3 linked regions of the Homo sapiens genome follow. The protein of the gene in region 1 interacts with the protein of each later gene in a pairwise test. Each region holds a gene or a part of one and is shown in the gene's direction. Other genes may lie near its edges. The genes, in order: TMEM276, KPNA3 and KPNA4.

What was found.
Region 2: the proteins of TMEM276 (region 1) and KPNA3 interact in binary tests that used the Homo sapiens proteins (3 or more experiments, as listed by UniProt).
Region 3: the proteins of TMEM276 (region 1) and KPNA4 interact in binary tests that used the Homo sapiens proteins (3 or more experiments, as listed by UniProt).

What each region holds. Positions count from the first base shown.
Region 1 is NC_000008.11:144,463,239-144,470,324, reverse strand, and holds TMEM276 (transmembrane protein 276 precursor), read left to right. Parts: upstream 1-4,832; 5' UTR 4,833-4,972; exon of another isoform or gene 4,973-5,228; 5' UTR 5,229-5,423; coding exon 5,424-5,516; intron 5,517-5,712; coding exon 5,713-6,198; 3' UTR 6,199-6,500; downstream 6,501-7,086. Other genes in the region: kinesin-like protein KIFC2, read right to left, coding at 678-835, 946-1,054, 1,491-1,600, 1,675-1,789, 1,919-1,996, 2,338-2,466, 2,546-2,611, 2,695-2,840 and 4 more; TMEM276-ZFTRAF1 (uncharacterized protein LOC157542 isoform 1 precursor), read left to right, coding at 5,424-5,516, 5,713-5,865.
Region 2 is NC_000013.11:49,705,548-49,712,709, reverse strand, and holds part of KPNA3 (importin subunit alpha-4), read left to right. Parts: intron 1-1,687; coding exon 1,688-1,819; intron 1,820-3,009; coding exon 3,010-3,138; intron 3,139-6,337; coding exon 6,338-6,442; intron 6,443-6,540; coding exon 6,541-6,612; intron 6,613-6,926; coding exon 6,927-7,089; intron 7,090-7,162. UniProt on the Homo sapiens protein: Functions in nuclear protein import as an adapter protein for nuclear receptor KPNB1. Binds specifically and directly to substrates containing either a simple or bipartite NLS motif.
Region 3 is NC_000003.12:160,520,572-160,527,571, reverse strand, and holds part of KPNA4 (importin subunit alpha-3), read left to right. Parts: intron 1-1,464; coding exon 1,465-1,634; intron 1,635-1,727; coding exon 1,728-1,772; intron 1,773-5,661; coding exon 5,662-5,793; intron 5,794-7,000. UniProt on the Homo sapiens protein: Functions in nuclear protein import as an adapter protein for nuclear receptor KPNB1. Binds specifically and directly to substrates containing either a simple or bipartite NLS motif.

The sequences.
Region 1 (7,086 bases):
TGGGGCTAAGGCCAGAGGGATGTGTGGGATGAAGGAAGAAGTGGTTGGAAAAGAGGCAATCAGGGTGACCCTGGCCACCTGCTGGGCAGTCGTCCCCCTGTCCCTGTGAGGCTGGCAGGCAGCCTGGTTGGGAGTCGCTGCCATTCTGCCCCTTACCTAGTCTCCCCTGGCTCTGAGCTGCCATCTCCTTAGCTATGGGAGCTGTAGCAGCAAAGGGCATGTGCAGATGAAAACGTGTGTGAAAGTGGGGTGGGCTGGGGCTGAAGCCCCTGCTTTTCCACAGGTGTCTGGCAGGAAAAGGGTGGGGAAGGAGAGTGGGATCCAGGCAAGGCAGAGAGAGCACACTAAGACTAGAAGGTTGCCTCCTCACCCACGGCCCCCACCACCCACCGCCTGCCTTGGGGCCATAAAGCAATGAGGGGCCCTCATAGCTGGGCAAACCCTGGACCCCAGCAAAGGGGAGTGGGCAGGCAGTGAAGCCTGGGAGGAGGAGGCACCAAGCTGGGCTGCCTGCCCTGCTTCCCAGCCCCCTCGGTTCCCTTTCCTTCCTGGCTAGAGCCCAGCCACCCTCTCTCCTCCAGGTGGACACCCAGACTGGGAAGGGGAAACTGGAGCCTCTCCTGCTCTTCAGGGAACTCTGAAAAAGGGTCAGGATGGCTGCAAAGGCAGGCTGTCACCTCCTCCTGGCTGGCGTCTGGAGGGAAGACCCAGTCTAGGCGGAATCGACGATGGCGCCCCCGGTAGCAGGTGGTGACGGTGCCCCCTGGGCCAGGCTCCACACTCACAAGGCTAGAAGATGTCCCTGGCCTCAGCCGACACAGCACACGGATATTTCCTGCAGTGGGGATCAGGTCAGCATAATGCCTCGCAGACCCTAAAGCACAGAGAAGCTGCACTTCTTCCAGCCGCCCTCCCTGCCCCGCTAGGCTCCCAAGCCTGTCATACCCTTGAGTTCTGGCAGCCGCCCTGGGCATCCGGCTGGGGGCCCTTGCTGCCCCTCAGGGAGCTGAGTGCCAGGCCCTCCAGATGACAGTGCCCCCAAGGCCCAGGACACCTGAGGGAACAGGGATGTACAGAAGGCAAGGGGTCAGCCAAGGAGCTGCGGAGGTGGGGGGTGGGAGGGTCCTGAGAGCAGCAGGGAGCCCCCACAGGCCCGCTCAGCTGTGCTAAGCCACAACTTTCAGTGGCTCTGGGCCCCTGGGGACATCATTGAGTAACCCCAGGATAAAGCCCAGGAATGACAGGCAGGAACACCACATCATCTGTCTCCTCCGTGCTTCTGGGCAATGCTTTAAGAGTTTACTGTCAACCAAGTATGCATAGAATTAAAATAAGGCCCAGAAGTGGAATCCCACCCTGGGTCACACAGAAGCTGTTTGGGTTCCAGAGCCCCACTTATTAGTACAGCCAACTCCCCAGGAACGCCCCCGTCAAAAGAACAGTGAATAGGCTGCCCAGAGAGGAGGGGCTAGGCGGGGAGGGGTCCTGACCTGGCCCCGGGCCTCACTCAGCGAACCCTGACAGCTCTGGGTAAAGGTGCTGACCAAACCTCGGAGGTCCCCGCAGCCCTGACGCAGGCTGGCCATCCGTGCCCGAAGTCCTGGAGAGGGAAGTCTGTTGGAAGGGAAGGCCCAGCCTCCAGGGCCTCCCATGAGCCCCAACCCCAACCCTTACCTGCCAGCTGCCCATGCATCTGCTGTAGCTCACGCCTGCAGTTCTGCTCCGTCTCCTGCTGGAGCTGCTGGAGGGCCCCTTGAAGGCCCTGCAGCTGCACCTCCTGCACCCCCAGCTGCCCCGCCCAACCCCACCCCTGTCACTGAGGAAACAGGCACTTACCAGGCCCTGCCTCAGATAAGCCCCTCCCAAAACCCCAGCCCGCCTCACCCCTGAGCCATGGATCCCTGGGCCCCATGCCCACCTGGGCTCGGAGGGCTTCTGTGGTGTCTTGGGCCTCCTGAAGCCGGCCCTGGAGCTCTAGCAATGCCTCTGCCTCCTCCTGCGGGAGGGTGGGGGCCAGGAGGGACTCAGAGAGGGACGGTCTGTGGTACCATTTCACAGATGGGAAAGTCAAGTCAAGAGGTGGGCAGAGCTGGCTGTGAACCCATGCCTCCCAGCTCCACGCAGACCTCCTTCCCACAGTCCCTCTGCTCTCCTGGGGTCAGCCACTCAGAGGGGCCACGGAGAGGGGGGTCTTCCCATTGGCATCAGCCTCCCTGATGGGGCTGCCCTACACAGACCATCCCGGGAGGTCCTGAGGAGGCTCGGGCCCTGTGGCTGCATGCCAGGTGTGCAAGAGCCCCAGGCTGCAGGAACGGCTGCAGCTCGGGAGCAGAGTACCTGCGGAGCCCTGATGGGGGGCCCGGGGCCCCAGTGCAGCAGGAGGTCCCGCATGAGACTCAGGCTCTGCTTCAGGGCCTCGTTCTCCAGAGTCAGATGCTGAACCCTTTTCTCTGAGTCCGTCGCCCCCTGGTGGAGAGGAAACCTCGGCACTCACCTGAAGCACCCCCTCCATGCCCGGCCCTGCCAGGTCTCCCTGCAGCCTCACCACGCCCAGGCGCAGTCGACCCAACTCCTCCTCCTGCTGTTCCAGCTGCTGCTTCAGCTCCTCCAGCTGGGGAGAAGTAAGAGAGACAGGGTGGACCTCCTTTTTCTGGCGTCCCAGCCGGCAATCCCTTCTGGCTCCAGGGACCTCACCTGTCCCAGGATGAGCTGCTCCAGCCGCTGCCACGCCCTCTGATCCTCCTCCAACTGGAGGGGCTGCTGTCCCTGGGTCTCATCCCCCAGTGGCTCGCCTGGGACTGCGGTGAAGTGGGAAGGGCTTTCTTCTTGGGATGTGGATCCTGGAGTAGGGTGGGCCCAGTTAGCACTGAAGAGGTCTCTAGTCCAAATCTTCCGGAACATGACCCCGAACTCCAGGCCGCCCAGGTTCTACCGGGATTTGCTCCCTCCAGAGTTCTTCTTCAACTTACTGTCCTTTACTCACCATCTGGAGAGGGGGGCCGGACCCGAGGGGCTGGCTGAGTCCCCTGGAGCAGGGCCTGCCTCCCCCTGGGGCTTCGAAGCCATGCCAGAAGGGCCAAGAGCTGACTGGTCACTGTCAACAGTGAGGGGACCTCGCCAGACTGCGAAGGAGACAAGAATCCGAGCAGGGCTGTGAAAGCCAGGAAGGCCGGGGCAGGTGGTACCTGCCAGCAGCCCCCTCCGCCGCGCTCACCTGGCCCAGGTCCGCCGGGCCCCCGCAGCTCTCTTCCGCCCCCAGCTGGACGGAGAGGAACTCGGCGAGGCGCAGTAGGGCCTCTTCCAGGGACACCGCGGCCGCGCGGCCCTCGGCTGCGCCTTCCGACCCATCCTCAGGCTCGGAGCTGGCTGCCGGTCAGGGAGGAGGGCGGGAGACATTTCGGGTCACGTGCTTGAGCCAGGCCTCCGCCCCTCCCTGGGAGGTCCCGGCACCGCCCTCGCACCGCGGGACTCCCAGCCCGCACCTACCGGCCAGGCCGGTCAGCTCGGTCCACAGCTCTGGCGCGGGCAGGTCTGGGCGCCGGCGACCCCGGGGCTTGCGGGCTCTCTAGGGAGGGGGCAGGGGCGCCCCTGAGGAGGGGGGCAGGCAGCCTGCTGGCCCCTTCCCTCCGCGAACCGGGCCGGAGGATTGGGGCCGAAGTCTACGCTTCCAGCATCGGGGCCGAGCCGAGGGTCCTCGGCACGGCCCCGTCGCCCCGCGCCCCGTGCCCGCCCCCGCCCCGGGAACCTCGGCGTGGGGGTGGGGCAGGCGGCGGGAGACGACGGGCTGCACGGCCAGCCCCGCTCACCTGGGCGGGGTCCCCGGGCTCCGCGGCCGCCGCGGCGCCACCATCCCTGCGGAAGAGGCTGTAGAAGATGTAGATGAGCAACGAGTAAAAGGCGTACATGGGAGCGCGGGGCGGCAGAGGGCCCCGCTTCGCGCCGCCCCGCGTCCCCGCGCCCAGACTCGGCGCCCGCCCGCCGCAGTGCCGGTGCGCATGCTCGCGACGGCCGCCCCCACGGCCCGGCTCCCACGGCTGGAAGGCGAGCGCGGGGACGGGGGTACTAGAAACAGGTGCCCGCGGCCGCACCTGGAGACCCGCCGTTTCTCACGGCGCCGCCCGGCGCGCCCCAACCCCTACACCGCGGACACCGGGCTGAGAGCGCCCACGGCTCCCGCGACCCTCCTCTCGGAATCCCTCCCACCCTCCGCGTAGTCCCCCACCGCTCCGGTTTCGCGGAGCCTTCAACACGCCGGGGTTCTCCTTCCTCTCCCTACAGCCCCGCCCATCTCAGCCCCGCCCATCTCAGCCCCGCCCAGACCCCCCCTCCTCGCAGCCCCGCCCAAACCCCGTTCCTTGCAGCCTCGCCCAGGCTCCTCCCCTCTCGGTCCCTCTCAGTCTCGCCCAGACCCCTCTCCTCGCAGCCCCGCCCAGGCCCCGCCCCTCGCAGCCACGCCCAGACCCCCCCATCGCATCCTCGCCCAGGCCCCGCCCCACCCAGGCCCCCTCCCTCTCAGACCCGCCGCTCTCAGCCCCGCCTAAACCTTATCTCCCTCAGCCCCGCCCAGACCCCCCGCCCCTCGCAGCCCCGCCCAGACCCCGCCCCTCGCAGCCCCGCCCCGGCCCTTCTCCCCTCATCACGCTCCTTCCAAACCACTATGCCCACGCACGCACCCACCCAAACAGAGCGTTTTCTGGTCCCCGAGCTCCTCCCGACCCCACCCGCTCCTACGGCCTCCAACCGGCCCCCCCCAGGTCTCGACCCTCTCCCCCAGGCCTCGACCCTCCCCCCCCAGCCGCTCTAGCCCCGCCCGGCCGCTCTAGCCTCCGCTCCTCTCGCTGGTGGAGGTTCCCGACCGCGCTCGCTCCCGCAACTGGGGGCACGGCAGAGGAGGCAGGGCCGACGGCGGTGGGCGGTGCGTTGCGCAGGCTCGGGCCTCCCGCTCGCCGCTGCGTTGGGACCGCGCAGCCCGGTAACTGCGCACGGCTGGCCTCCCGGAGTCCTGCGCCGTCGCTCCTCCTGGACCCGGGTTCCCAGGACAACGCCTCCCGGAACGCAGGGAGCAGGCCGAGGCCGCCGCGTGGGCCTGCAGCGCCTCGCCGCTCTCTCTTCCCCAGGCCCGCACTCCCACTTGGGCTCCAGGGCCCCAGGGCTGACGTTCCCCCCAGCTTAGACCCTGAGTCGTTTTCCCCCGTTTCCCGGCTGAATTAGGTTCTTCTTCTCCACAGGTGTGTGCAGTGGCCTCAGGGATCCGGAAAGTCTAGGACTGAACTTCTCCTAACATCCAGTAATGGGGACCTGGAACCTGGGCTTACTAGAGTGCCGCGCGTAGGGCTCCAGGTCGCTGGCTTCTGCGCTTCCTTCCTCTCCAAAGTTGAGTATCTCCTATCTGTGTCCTCGTACATACTGCCGCCTGAGGTGCCATGGCCCCCAAGCCGGGGGCCGAGTGGAGCACAGCCCTGTCCCATCTGGTGCTGGGAGTGGTGTCTCTGCACGCAGCCGTGAGCACAGCCGAGGTGAGTACACTGGGGCTGAGCAGGGGCGCATCCCCATACCTCCCAAACCCCAAGGACCTAGTTTCCTGAATTAGAGAGAGGTTGGTGGGAAGTGCGTCTAAGACCAGGTCTCCATGGAAGCCCCAAACCCTTTCCTGTTTAAAAGGGTGACCCCGGCCTCTTTTTCCCACGTGTTCTCCCTTCCCTGTGTTGACAGGCAAGTCGAGGGGCTGCTGCTGGCTTCCTGCTCCAGGTCTTGGCTGCCACCACCACGCTGGCCCCAGGGCTGAGCACACACGAAGACTGCCTTGCTGGAGCCTGGGTGGCCACCGTCATCGGCCTTCCCCTTCTGGCCTTCGATTTCCACTGGGTGAATGGGGACCGCTCCTCTGCCAACCTGCTCCTGGGAGGAGGCATGGTGCTGGCAGTGGCTGGCGGCCACCTCGGCCCTGAGGGCCGCTCTGTGGCTGGTCAGGCAATGCTGTTGGTGGTCGCAGTGACCATCCTCATTGTAGCTGTCTTCACGGCCAACACTTATGGGATGTGGGGGGGGGCGATGCTGGGTGTGGCAGGCCTCCTGAGCCGGCTGGAGGAGGACAGGCTGCTGCTGCTACCGAAGGAGGATGTCTGTCGCTGGGCCTTGGCTGTAGGCAGCTGGGCTTACTGCCGGGCCCTGCATACACAGCGCCTCCAGTGGGAGTGACAGTTGGATACAGCCAGGCAGGGTTTCTGCCCTGCCGAACACTTTCCCTCCCACCTGCCTGCTCCTGGCGCCTTCTCCCTAGGGGTAGACTCTTCTGCCTACTGAAGTGGGTTTGCTGCACATTGACTGGTCAGGGGCAGAGTCTGGGTGCTGTCCTTTGGCCACGTGTGGGGACTTGTCTAGACCAGAATGAAAGGGACAGGGTCCCAGACACGTTTGGGGGTCCTGATTCTGGGCTGGACACGGTTGTGGATCCAGAGAAGAGGCCTAGTCTCCAATAAATCTTAGGAATTTTGCAGGAATATGAAAACTGCCCATTTTTGAGAGGGATTGAGGGATCTTTCAGTGAGCTTCCTAAGGCCCCTCAGGACAGTAGTCAGTTACCCTGACAGGGTATGTGCTGGAACTAGGATGGGGTCTCATGCAGCCCGGCCTCCTTTTGACTATTGTCAGGAAGACCCCTGGGCTGAGAAGACATAGCCCTGGGCCCTTACTCTCCAGGGACATGGTGGAGTTCCAGATATCCTGGCCTGGCCTGGCAGGTGGCCCTCTGGGGCAGTGACCTTCAAGAACTGAAGAGTAGGGTGGAGGCAGGGGAGGGCTGTACCACAGGCGTTTCGAGAAACGCACATCCTTCCCAGAGCTGATTCGCCCTCCTGTGTACCTCCGGCCTGTGGAAGCCAGCCCTATTCCCTAATACCTTCGTTTTCCTCAGTGGACCCCTTCAGTCTCCAACCCCAGGGTTAGAGGGGGTTCGGACGAGCAGAGGATTAGATTCCGGTGGGTTAGGGGTCTGGAGTCCCCTCTCCTGGAAGTCTCTCCGCTTGCTCCTGTGGAGACCTAAGGGGTCCCGCACCCGACAGAGAGGGGTGGCCGGCGGGATTTTTC
Region 2 (7,162 bases), on another chromosome or scaffold:
CATGAGCTTATTCTATTTTCTCTTCTTGCCTCAACCTCCCATTTTTTAATCTGATTCTAGACTTATCTATTTTGCCAAATTTGGAACATATTTCTTCATATTTTTTTCAGCTCCGCCTTTCCTTGTAGGGTCTCTGAAGACACAAATATTAGATCTATTGTTATTGTGCTGGAAGTTCCTGAGAGTTAATTTCTGTTTAATCTTTTTTTTTTTCTGTTATTCAGTTTGGATGATTTCTATTGATGTATCTTTGGGTTCATTTATTTTTTTTTCCCCCTTCTATCATGTCGGGTTTTTTTGCTGAGAATTCCCACTTTAAATTTGTTTCAAATGTGTTCATAATTGTTCACCAGTGCATTTTTATGATAGTTACTTTAAAATCTTATCAAGTCCTTGTCAGATAATTCCAATATGTGTGTCATCTCAATATTGGCATCTGTTGACTGTCTTTTCTCTTTTGAGAATTTCCTGGATCTTGGTATGAAGGGTTATTTTCCATTGTAGCCTACACATATTGGTGTTATGCTTTGAGACCCCTGTTTCTAGGTAAATCTAGTTACTGTTACTGCCAGGGTGGGCAGTAGCCAGACTTTGTTCTCAGACCCAGCATCTGCAGACACCTCCAGCAGGGAGGCCTCCTCACTTCCAGAGTGGGAAATGGGCTGGTAGGTGGGCTCAGCTCTTAGGCCCAGCTTCTGTCCTCTCTTTTACACAGTCTTGAGGCAAGAGGTCCAGACAAAAGCTAGAATTTAATTTTTTCTCCTCTTACAGATAATGGAAATTTTTAGTGTTCTCTGACTCTTAGTAATGCTGAAGGGGTGTGGGTTATATGTGTAGTTCTATTTTATTTATTCATCTATATCCTTTTTTGAAGGGTATGTGAATTCAGGTGCCTGCTATTATTTTAGGGCAAAAAGATGTGATGTCTTCAATTTGGATGACCTAATAGGAAACATCTTGATTTTGCATAAGCTACAACCAGTGCTTATATTCCTCTGTGACGACACCAAGCAATGCCACATACAAGATCTTTGACCTTGAATGAATCACCAGATCGCTAAGCCTGTTTTCTTCTATGTAGTTGCAAAGTTAGGATAGGCCTAGGGCATGGTTTATACTCCAGGTTTATACTTCAGTTGGGGACACATTTCAGGAGATTTTCAAACAGTTTTTTCCCCAGATGAAGTTAAAGTGCCAAGTCATTTCTTTTATTGGTTTACTTTAGTAGCCTGAAAAATTGTATTGCTAAATATGTTGGAAAACCAGTAGAGTAAATAGATGACCTTTCTGTTCTCTTCTGAACTTGAAACAGTATGGTGTGTTGGCCTCATTCTTGTAAATAGTGTTTTTCTGTGGGATTATTAGGTAGCTAATTTGTGAGGGCAGGGAGAATTACTTTTCTGCCTGTTTTTAAATTCATCTGTCTGATACATAAATGCAGAAGTTGGAATAGAAGTTTTCCCAGACTTCTGTGTCTCATTTTCTGTGAAGAATGATCTGAGGTAGGCACTGAAAGAAAGATAAGGTACTTTCTACTTAATAGATTAATCAGCTAAGCAGATATTTTTGCCACTAAGCTAAAACTTGAAATTTGGTTACTTTTTCTGTCACTACTCCTGAGGTGTGTTGAACAAGTAAAGCATTCAAACAAATATGTAAAATGGTTTTTCTTTTGTGTTTCCTGTAGATTCTTGTAGACACTGTTTGGGCTCTGTCATACTTGACAGATGGAGGTAATGAACAGATACAGATGGTTATTGATTCAGGAGTTGTGCCCTTTCTTGTGCCCCTTCTGAGCCATCAGGAAGTCAAAGTTCAAGTAAGTATTTTTAAATTTTTCTTATTTGTATACAGTTGTGTTTGCTATAACCAGTTAACTTGTACAGCTAGGCTTTAATTCTATCTGTAAGTGCTTATCTTCCACATTTCTTCTGCTAGTCCCTGAGCCTGATTTTGTTGATTTCCAAATCTTTATCTCACCCAGTTTCTTTGCTGAGTTCCACACTTGTATAGCCAATTGTTCTTGACCCTTTATACATATCATCTAAGAACTCCTTCAAGCTTTCCGTGGTTAACTAGACAGAAATGAAACGATCATCTCCCACAAACCTGCTCTTCTTCCTTGTCTACCTTCAGTGAACAGCATGGCCTAAGCTAGAAATTTTGATTCCTCCTTGCAATTCCCATTCCATTACAAAATCATTTCAATTCTTCTTATATAGGTTCAAATCTGTCTCTCCTTATCTATCTAGAACAACAGATTTAGTTCAAGACTCTATCTTTCCCCCAAATAATTGCAATAACCTAATTGCATTTCTTCTTTCTCTCTCCCACTCTAATTAGGGGTAGGCACTTATTAGATCTGTTCATCCTGCTTTACCAAAGTGACTTTCTAGGTGGAAGTGTGTGCCCATTCCAGGCGTTTATTAAAATATTATATATATTTTTGAGATGGAGTCTTGTTCTGTCGCCCAAGCTGGAGTATGGTGGCGCGATCTCTGCTCACCGCAGCCTCTGCCTCTCAGGTTCAAGTGATTCTCCTGCCTCAGCCTTCAGAGTAGCTGGGATTACAGGCATGCACCATCACACCAGCTAATTTTTGTATTTCTAGTAGAGATGGAGTTTCACTATGTTGCCCAGGCTGGTCTTAAACTCCTGACCTCAGGTGATCCCCCCCGCCTCGGCCTCCCAAAATGCTGGGATTATAGGCATGAGCCACCATGCCCAGCCTTAAGAAACTGGACTTCTTCTAAAATTTTAATTTCCTTTTATTTTTTGAATCTTTTTCCAACCAATTTTCACACAATTTTTTTTTTTCATAAAGTTTCAGTTTTTCACAAGAGACTATTTAAAATTCAGAATAGCTCTCAGACTGCTTGGTGCTTTGTGAAAGGATGAAATAAGTGTTATTTATGCCTTGCATTTTTACTTTTTCTCAGGATTATGAAAAATATAGAATTAGTCTTATAAGCAAATAAATTTATAGAAAACATTTTATCCCCACCCTAGACAGCAGCCCTCAGAGCAGTTGGCAACATAGTGACTGGCACCGACGAGCAGACCCAGGTTGTTCTCAATTGTGATGTCCTGTCACACTTCCCAAATCTCTTATCACACCCAAAAGAGAAGATAAATAAGGTAAGGCATATAATGTCCTCATTATGCTATTTCTTTCTGTGTCTCATTTTTAACTGTCTCCTTGTTTCTATTGCTACTTGTATGTTTTTCTTAAAAGCCACTGCAGCGAAGATGAGAATTATTTTAAATCACCTCTGCAAATGTTTTTCTTCAACTTTTTTTTTTTTTTTTTTGAGACAGAGTCTGTCTGTTGCCTAGGCTGGAGTGCAGTGGCACGATCTCGGCTCACTGCAACCTCTGCCTCCTGGGTTCAAGCGATTCTCCTGCCTCAGCCTCCCGAGAAGCTGGGACTACAGGTGCCCGCCACCACGCCCAGCTAATTTTTGTATTTTTAGTAGAGATGGGGTTTCACCATATTGGCCAGGCTGGTCTCGAACTCCTGACCTTGTGATCCGCCTGCTTCAGCCCCACAAAGTGCTGAGATTACAGGCGTGAGCCACCGCGCCCAGCCTTTTTCAACTTTTAATCGCTTCTGGTAGGTGCTGCCCTGGTCATCACAGAGTAAAAAACATTTTTAGACTACCTGTGTTTCTATTTAAGTAGACTGAGCATAGCAACAATCATTAAATTAGTAGCCGCTTGAAAGTGCAGACAAAATCTGCCATTTGAATGGGCTGGTATTTTTTTAAACAAACCGATCATAAAAATTTTGATCTCCCAGCAAAATTAGTTTGGACCCAAAGACGAGGTGCCTAAATTCAAGGATCATAAAAAATTACTCTTTTTAAGATTTCAAGCTTCATAGACAAGTTTATTATTAATTGTGTAATATGTACTTACTAGTATGTAATAAGTCTTCATGCCTGGCTTATTTCATCTAGCATGTTTTCAAGGTTCATTCATTTTGCAGCATGTGTCAGAACTTTATTCTTTCTATGGCTGAATAAATATTCCATTGTATGTATACACCACATTTTGTTTTTACATTCTTCTGTTGATGGACACTTCGGTTGTTTCCACCTTTTCACTATTACGAAGAATGCTGCAGTGAACATTGGCATACAAATACCTATTTGAGTTCCCGCTTTCAATTTCTTTGGATATATAACTGCAAGTAGAATTGCTCGATCATATGTTAATTCTGGGTTTAGCTTTTTGAGGAACCACCAAACCGTTTTCCATTGCAGCTGCACTGTTTTACATTCCCACCAGCAGTGTTACTAGAATTCTAATTTCTCCACATCCTAGCCAACGTTTATTTTCTGTTAAAAAAAATTACTGACAATCCTAGTAGATGTGAAGTGGTGTCTCATTGTGGTTTAAATTTACGTTTAGTTGGCCAGGCATGGTGGCTCATGCCTGTAATCCCAGCACTTTGGGAGGCCGAGGCGGGCAGATCACGAGGTCAGGAGATTGAGACCATCCTGGCTAACACAGTGAAACCCCGTCTCTACTAAAATTACAAAAAATTAGCCGGGTGTGGTAGCAGACGCCTGTAGTCCCAACTACTCAGGAGGCTGAGGCAGGAGAATGGCATGAACCCAGGAGGTGGAGTTTGCAGTGAGCCAAGTTTGTGCCACTGCACTCCAGCCTGGGCGACAGAGCAAGACTCTGTCTCAAAAAAAAAAAAAAAGGAAAAAAGAAAAAGAAATAAATTTACATTTAGTTTACTAAAGTTTTATCTGCCTAATATACTACCATCACCCAAACCCAGCAGAACTGATCATTTCTTCTTCGTCATCATAACTATATTTGTATAGTTGCTTGAGTATAATTTGACTGTTGGGTTCTTATAGAAAAGTATGGTGTCAAAAAACACATTTTATAGATACATTTGTTCCAGTGAAGACAAAGAAGCCAGAGACTTTCAGACTCTGGGCCAGTTACTTTTACTAAAGAAATTTTTAACAATATAGGTGATTTTTTTTTTTTTAGCTAAATGAATATATTCCATAATTGGAAACAACTGAGAAGTGAGGAAGCTGGGCAGAAGTCAGCAGAGAAAGGTTCCGGCCTGTGATGTAGTATGCTTTTAAGTGAGGGTATCGTGGGGGGTAGAGGAAAATTTCATAGAAATGCCATCTCAACTTCAGCAAGCAATTAGTTACTTCAAAAATTTTTTGCCTTGAAAATTTGTTACTTGCATTTTGAGACTATCATAGGACCCTGGAAGTAGAAGTTACCAACTTGATTTTCTTCCCTCAGCATTTCTGTTTGAAACTTTTTAAATCTACAAAAAATGTGCAAGAATAGTATAGTGAACACCCATGTACTCTAAACACAGATTCAGCAATTATTAACAACTTACCACAGTTGGATGGCAAAACAAATTCATTTGTGGAAGAGGAAGATACACATGTGATACTAACCTGTAAACAGCTCACAGACGTGTTTATGACTTATAAATCCCTTAGTTTTAGAATATTTATGTTATATAGACCCATGCTAGACTAGTTAGATGGTTAATTTTTATGGAATACTTGAATGACTATATCTTGTGAGTAAATATTTTTTAAAATTAAAAAAGAAATCACCTTTATTAGAAGTAGTTTTTAAGTAGTTTTAGAAATTCAGTTGTATAGTGGCTGGGCGCGGTGGCTCATGCCTGTAATCTCAGCACTTTGGGAGGCCTAGGCGGGTGGATCACGAGGTCAGGAGATCGAGACCATCCTGGCTAACACGGTGAAACCCCGTCTCTACTAAAAATAGAAGAAAATTAGCTGGGCGTGGTGACAGGTGCCTGTAGTCCCAGCTACTCGGGAGACTGAGGCAGGAGAATGGCGTGAACCCGGGAGGCGGAGCTTGCAGTGAGCCGAGATCACGCCACTGCACTCCAACCTGGGCGACAGAGCAAGACTCCGTCTCAAAAAAAAAAAGAAAAGAAAAAAGAAATTCAGTTGTATATTTATTTCTGTCTTTTAGAGGAAGCTAATGCACAGACATGTAAGCTCCATGAATAAAGATTTCTGTTTTGTTCATTTCTATAAAATCACCATTTCCTAGAATAATGCCTAGCTTATAGTAGGCCTATATATTAATGAATGGATAAATGCCAGGTTATTGGAGCCCAAATATAATTAATGGAAATTTCCTTATAACTTGTTTAAAATGGAAGATTTTGTATACCTAATCACTTTTTAGGTGCAGTCTCTTTAACGTAATTCAGGTGATTTTGTTATTGTCTATATAAAATATATTAGAAAGACATTAAAGGTATTATTTTTCAAATAAAGGTGCCCTATATTTTGTTCAATTATAGGAAGCAGTGTGGTTCCTTTCCAACATAACAGCAGGCAACCAGCAACAAGTTCAAGCTGTAATAGATGCTGGATTAATTCCTATGATAATTCATCAGCTTGCTAAGGTTGGTCATATTATGAGTTCACCGTGTCTGTTAATCTGTTAATAACCAAGACTTTTTGGATAAAGAGTCCATTTTATGATCTCATTTTTAACCTTCAGGGGGACTTTGGAACACAAAAAGAAGCTGCTTGGGCAATCAGCAACTTAACAATAAGTGGCAGAAAAGATCAGGTGAGTTTGAAAACCTGTAACTGTCATGATTGTTAATACTGGAAAGCATGCTGCTCTCTTATGTTTCGTAGTTGCTGACTGTATTGTGTTCTTTTTGGGGAAAAGATAATTATTATTATTTTAAGAGATGGAGTCTCACTATGTTGCCCAGGCTAGAGTGCAGTTGCTATTCACAGGCATGACCATAACGCACTACAGCCTCCAACTCCTGGGCTCAAGATAGCCTCCTGCCTCAGCCTTCCATGTAGCACGACACCCTACTGGGAAATAGATAATTATATAAATAAAAATATTTCTTCTCTTTTGTTGTCTAGGTTGAGTACCTTGTACAGCAGAATGTAATACCACCGTTCTGTAATTTACTGTCAGTGAAAGATTCTCAAGTGGTTCAGGTGGTTCTAGATGGTCTAAAAAACATTCTGATAATGGCCGGTGATGAAGCAAGCACAATAGCTGAAATAATAGAGGAATGTGGAGGTAAGAGTGGATTGATGGAAGAAGAGTATTTGAGCACTGGAACTCTGAAACATAAGTTCTTTAAAGTCAACTT
Region 3 (7,000 bases), on another chromosome or scaffold:
TAAACCAATAATTTTTCTCCGTAATGACAGTTCTGAGAAGAGTCTAAAATGAAATTTTTTCTCTCTTGCAGACTTCAGTACATTAGAATTTAGTAATGTATAAAATATAGTAATATTATTTCCTGTCACCATGAATCAACAAGACATAACCATAGCCTTTTGACAGTCTGGTTAAATATTTAACACTGTGATTACTATAACTTTCAGGTTCTCTCTGATAAATAATTGTAAGGAAAATAAAGACAATTCTGATATTTCAAGGATTTGTTTTTTTAACTAGAGCCTAAACTCAAAAATTCAAAGAACTATTCTCCAGTAAAGGATGGAAAAAATCTGAATTGTATTGTGCCCCAGTATAGCTCAGAGACCTAACAGTTATGAGTGGGGGCTGAGGTACTGTTTGTAGGGGTATTGCTAATCTAGTGAAGGAGAATGATTCTAAAGATTATTTTTGCCAAATTCTTTATTCTTGCATGGAAATAATCATTGTTGCTTTGATATGCCATCTCTTTATTGCCCTTATACAGGGCCAACATGAAAGTAAAGAGTGGTTATGAGTTTTTAAGGGAGAATTTCTCTGTAAACCATTCTTGACATTGGGTTTATACTATTAGGAATGCTATTGTTTCTATATCCAGACTCCCTCACTCTTTTGCTTTTATACCAAATGTTAGATTTAGAGCTATTATACAGCATCTTGATCTTTCATTTTTTTATTCCAGTGACATTCCGTAATTAACATGAATATAAAGATGCAAAAAGAACAAACATTTTATCTCCAGATATTATAGTGCAAGGGAAGGTGCTTTCACTTATGGTAACATTTCAACATGGCTTCATATTAGAAACTGCAGTGATGCTTCAGATACAGAAATTAAACTTGGCAGTTCTCTGCAGCAGTGGTTCTCAAACCTTAGCATGCAATCAGGACTACATGGGGTGCTTGTTAAAACACAGAATTCCAAACCCATAGAGTTTCTGCTTCAGGAGGCCTGAGCTAGAGCCCAATAATCACATTGAGAACCACTATTCTAGCACTGGTTCACCCTTTTCTTCTGACATAGTTTTCTAAGTGTATAGAGTAATTTATAGTTCATAACCTTGATGCTCTGATACGGGATCATAAGTACAAATTCAACAAATATTTTCTTGATACATCTTTTTTATCACATGAAAGTTTGTTAAACCAAGAGTATTGTTGAGAGAGAAGTTAAAAGCAGCAGTTTAATTAAGTGAGCAGCAAAATGCTGAAGATGGGAATAATGTGCAAAAGAATACCTTATCACTTTATGTTGCCTCTCTTGGCTCAGAGACCTTGAATGTGAGCCTGCTTGTTATTGTCTAAAACTGAACAGTGTATCTGGATAAAATACATGAAGCAGCATATTCCCAGTGCTTTGTGTTTTCTGAAAATGCTTACTGTCAGTATGTTTTATTGAGTAAATTAATCCTTTTTTTCTACAGGTGATGGGCCCCAGTGTAGAGATTATGTCATAAGTCTTGGAGTTGTGAAACCTTTACTTTCCTTCATAAGTCCATCTATTCCTATAACATTCTTAAGAAATGTTACTTGGGTTATGGTCAACTTATGTCGCCACAAAGACCCACCACCACCAATGGAAACCATTCAGGAGGTAAACACTTTTAAAAAAAAATTAAAAGAGATACCATTATATATATATTTTTTATTTGTGTATGTTTTTAAATCTACATATTTCTCTCCTCAGATTCTTCCAGCCCTTTGTGTTTTAATTCATCACACAGATGTAAATGTGAGTAAATGTGTCCTATTATATATTTATGTATGTATGTATGTATTTCTAGGGCTTCCCCTGTGACATAGGGGAGAAATATTATACTAACACATTGTGTCAGCATACTATCAGATTTTCCCATTTCAAGAGTTATTTTATATTAGATTAGTTATTTTATAATATTTTAATATTTACTCTATGTTTATCTATATCACAAAATATAATACCAGTTAAGAAATCAAGCATAACTGTTATTTTGGTGTGGACAATATTGTATGTATGTGTATATATTAGTGTTATAAAAACTGACATTAAAAGTTTTTAAAGTTGCCAGATAGTGGTGATTTCTCTTACTAAGATCATGTCTTTAATTGTTCTTGTGCTTTTTACAGAAGGTCATTTTGACAGTTTGGCCAATGAAAGCACACACAAATAGTGCTATTTTTGTTTTTTGAAAGATGAAAAAGGAAAATGTTTGTGCATGGATTTGTATTCATATACACATACCAAACCATGGACATCAATTGCCCTTTAATTCCATTTTTATTCTATTTCTCAGTTACAGTGACTGGCAGTGGCTTCATTTATCAAGATAACTTGATTATCCAAACAACAGGAAAAAAAAATCAGTGCAGGCAAGATTTTAAACATAGCAAATATATTTTGCTTATTTTTACTAACACAGATGGCAGAGGAAAAAGCAACTCAGGGAGTATGAATGAGGTGGAAAACTGCCCTGAGTGCTTGTAAAAGCCAGACCAGCCTTTGGTGTGTTAGAGAAACCAGGAATATAATGGGTAAGGGAAAACACATGAATGAAATGTTTAGCAACAATCAGGAACTCATGTGGTTCTTTAAAAACAGTTTGGCATGGTGACCAGTGTTGGACAAGCTGCTTCATTTCTTTACAATTTAAAGGCCTATGCCTTTTGGCCAGAATTTAATTTGTATGGAACAAATTAAAATTAGAATTTTACTGTATCAAACAGTGACATAATATATAAAATTCATTAGATGAACATGATCTCTGTGGTAGAGTTTTTGTTTGTTTTTAGCCCCAGATAGTTTAGGATCTTAAAAAATGTGTAAGTAATTTTTGGTTTTGGCTCCTTAATAGCCAAGTTCTTTGATTAAATTGTGAATTTCAATATTTTGCTTTGAAAGATTTACAAGAGGCCAGGTGTGGTGGCTTATGCCTATTGTCCCAGCACTTTAGGAGGCTGAGGCAGGAGGATCACTTGAGTGCAGGAGTTCGAGACCAGCCTGGGCAACATGACGAAACCCTGTCTCTATGAAAAATACCAAAAAATTAGCCAGGCATAGTGATGTGCACCTGTAGTCTCAGCTACTCAGTGGCTGAGGCAGGAGGATCTCCTGAGCTGGGGAGGTCAAGGCTGCAGTGAACTGTGATCATGTCACTGCACTGCAGCCTGAGTGACAGAGCAAGACCCTGTCTCAAAAATAAATAAATAAATAAATAAATAAAACGATTGGCAAGAAAGATTTAACTTCAAAGTTTATACCTCTACTAGAAAACAAGACATCTTGGTTGACTTTATTTAGAGATAGATTGTGTTCTTTCCACCTATTTACTCCAATCTAGATGAGACTGTGACTCCATTTTCTTGCCTTTGATGTATCTTGAAGAATTTCTCAAGCCTGTTTACATTGTTCTTTTTAGTAACATGATTAACAAATAATATTGCTTACTAAATAATGTGTTAGAAGTTTGATTTGAATTATGATTTTGATCTGAGCATATTAGTGACATGTCCTTTAAAAACATGTATCTAGCTTTTATATACAGTTATGAGCAAGTAACTTGAAATTTTTGGCCTATGTCAACAAATTTTAGCATATGTTAATATTCCAGAAAAGAAACTCAGTTACATTTGCAAATTGAAATTTAGGTTTTTTCACATATATTGATACCATTTTTTTATGTGAATTCTTTTTTTTTTCTTTTTGAGACAGAGTCTCGCACTGTTTCCCAGGCTGGAGTGCAGTGGCATGATCTCCACTCACTGCAACCTCTGCCTCCTGGGTTCCAGCGATTCTCCTGCCTCAGCCTCCCGAGTAGCTGGGTTTACAGATGCCCGCCACCACGCCTGGCTAATTTTTTTGCATTTTTTAGTGGAGACAGGGTTTCACTATGTTGGCCAGGCTGGTCTTGAACTCTTGACCTCGTGATCCACCCACCTTGGCCCCCCAAAGTGCTGGGATTGCAGGCGTGAGCCACCACACCCAGCCTGTGCGAACTCTCATTTGATGTCTTCTTTTTACATTAGAAATATCCTTAGAGCTTTCTTGAATTTCCTAAGAAACAATGGCAAAGCATTATTTTCACCTTTTAGGAGTTTCGGGGTGTCTTTTTGGTTTTTTTTATCTTATTTTTTTATTTTCTCTTGGGTGTCCTAAGCATAACATTAGTTTACAGTTTTACGATTTTTTTAAAGTCAGGGTCATAAAAACAAGAAAAAATAAACAATGCCGAATTGTTTCTGTTTTTCATAGAGACGGGGTTTCACCGTGTTGCCCAGGCTGGTCTGTAACTCCTGGGCTCAAGCAGTCCACCTGCCTTGGTCTCCCAAAGTGCTGGGGTTACAGGCGTGAGCCACTACTCCCTGCCTAGTTTATTGTTTTAAAGGTTTTACACTTCTCCAGCTTGTCTTGACACAGAGTTCATATTCTGGAAAGGCTTTGGAAGTAGTTTTAGGCACAATTATTATTCCCATGTCTTTGTCAATAATTTGTGTATTTATTTGCAGCAGTTACAGTTGTTTGTCATACTGCCCTTTGGTCATAACTTCTAATTAGGACCTAACGTACTAGGAAAGATCAAACACATGGCCTGTTGTACTTAAAGATGTAATCGTTAAAAAAAATGGTAGGCTACTTAGTAGAAGTTGATTACACAGGCTTTTTTTTTTTTTTCATAAGTAGCAGCTGTAGTGAAGTACGTATTTTTTGTTTTAATTACAGGTCTCACAGATTGACCTATGATTATTTTAATGTCTTGATCTGCAGCTGTAGGGGACTTCCACTATTTAAGAAGTTGCTGGCCGGGCGCAGTGGCTTACGCCTGTAATCCCAGCACTTTGGGAGGCCGAGGCGGGCGGATCATGAGGTCAGGAGATCGAGACCATCTTGGCTAACACGGTGAAACCCCGTCTCTACTGAAAAATGCCAAAACTTAGCCAGGCGTTGCGGCATGCGCCTGTAGTCCCAGCTACTCGGGAGGCTGAGGCAGGAGAATGGCATGAACCCGGGAGGCGGAGCTTGCAGTGAACCGAGATCGCGCTGCTGCACTCCAGCCTGGGCGACAGAGCGAGACTCCGTCTCAAAAAAAAAAAAAAGTTGTCTCCAGTTCTGTAAGGCAAAACAAACTGGTTGGAAAAGATTAAAGTATTTTATACTACAATATGAATACTTGGGTTATTGGCTTTAGGCATATCTACATGGTACTTACAATACTAGAGAACTCCTTGAATATATTCATCTAGCCCAGATGTTTTGAACAACTGTGCATGTTGGATACATGTAGTCTTTCCAGCTTTATACATGAGCCACAATGTTTTTGGACCTGTTATCCCTCAGCCTTTGGGAAAGAGAATGTCTTTTTCTCCTGTTTTATGAGCTGTGTAGTGTGCGTGTGTATCTTAGTGAACTAAGATTGGATACTAATCTGGGATCAGAATCCTGAATATGGCTAAAAGATGTACGTCTTAGTACAGACATTTATAGATGATGATGTTTAATACCGTAGCGATCAGATTCCAATGAATTAAACTGAGAGAAGAAAAGAAGGAAGAAGGTAGTTGAACAATTTTAGAATGGTTGTTTGGTCAAGAATTACTAAAATGAGAAAATATTTAAAAGTTGTTTGAATTTTTATTTTATTCATTAGATACTGGTAGACACAGTCTGGGCCCTCTCTTACCTTACTGATGCTGGCAATGAACAAATACAGATGGTAATAGACTCTGGAATAGTTCCTCATTTGGTTCCTCTGCTCAGCCACCAGGAAGTTAAAGTTCAGGTAAGTTTGTTCTTAGTTAAATTATAAGTATTTCTTACCACTAATTGCTTTAAGCATGGCATTCAAAGATGGACAATTTCAGTAGTTTAAAGTATATTCTTAGCATAACAACAAATCTGTGATGGAAAGGGGAAAATAAATAATAAGATGCCATTGTAGATTACTAATTTCTTTTTTTAAGATGGGGTCTCACTGTCACCCAGGCTGGAGTGAGGTGGCGTGATCTCAGCTCACTACAACCTCCACTTCCTAGGTTCAAGGAACATTCTCCCACCTCAGCCTCTTGAGTGGTTGGGATCACAGGCACACACCATCATGTGTAGCTAATTTTTTTCTATTTTTGATACAGTCAGGGTTTTGCCATGTTGGCCAGGCTGCTCTTGAACTCCTGGCCTCAAATGATCCTTCCACCCCAGCCTCCCAAAGTGCTGAGATTACAGGTGTGAACCACCATGCCTGGCCGGATTACTGATTTTTAATGTAGACCAGGGAAGTTCATTATAGCAACATGCATGGCATCTGAAACAAGTATTGACAGACACTTATTTTTTCCTACTCCTCTTCTTTTTGTTCTTCCTCTTTCACTTCCCTACTTCTTTTTTTTTCTTCCTTGCCAACCATCCTTATTTACTCACCTGGCAAGTTTAGTTAACTCTTATCTTCATTGGTGCTGAAATAAGGGTACTCTACTGAAATGTGCTGTTTAGGGACTTTCTAAATTGTTGCTTTTCACTTATTTAAATTTATTTTTTATTGTTTAAATTCTTTCACATAATATTTATCCCAAAGAATTTGCATTTAGAAAGAGCCAAAAACAGAGTGTGAGAAGTTCTCAGAGATATAAGCAGTAGCTGTTAAGCTACAGTTGTAATGGGGGAGACGCAGCAAGCTCCCTCTACCTTTCTGAGGTAAATAGTATATTTTAATCTGCTAATGGCTTAGAATCTGTAAAGTACAATAATCGCATAAGAGAAACCGTTAGTCTGTAGCCTAAGTCATTATGCCTGAACATCAAAATAAACTGTGTGGAGCTGTTTTTAATTTCTCCTGCTCAACCCCTGGAGATTTCTGTTTCAGAAAATATTTCTTAGAAACTTGAGCTTTAAAATGCTCTTCAGGTGATACTGATACATAGTCAGATTAGAGACCCTGTACCTTAAAATTAAAGCACTTTAAAGAAGGAACACTTAGCTAAATACAGAAAGAA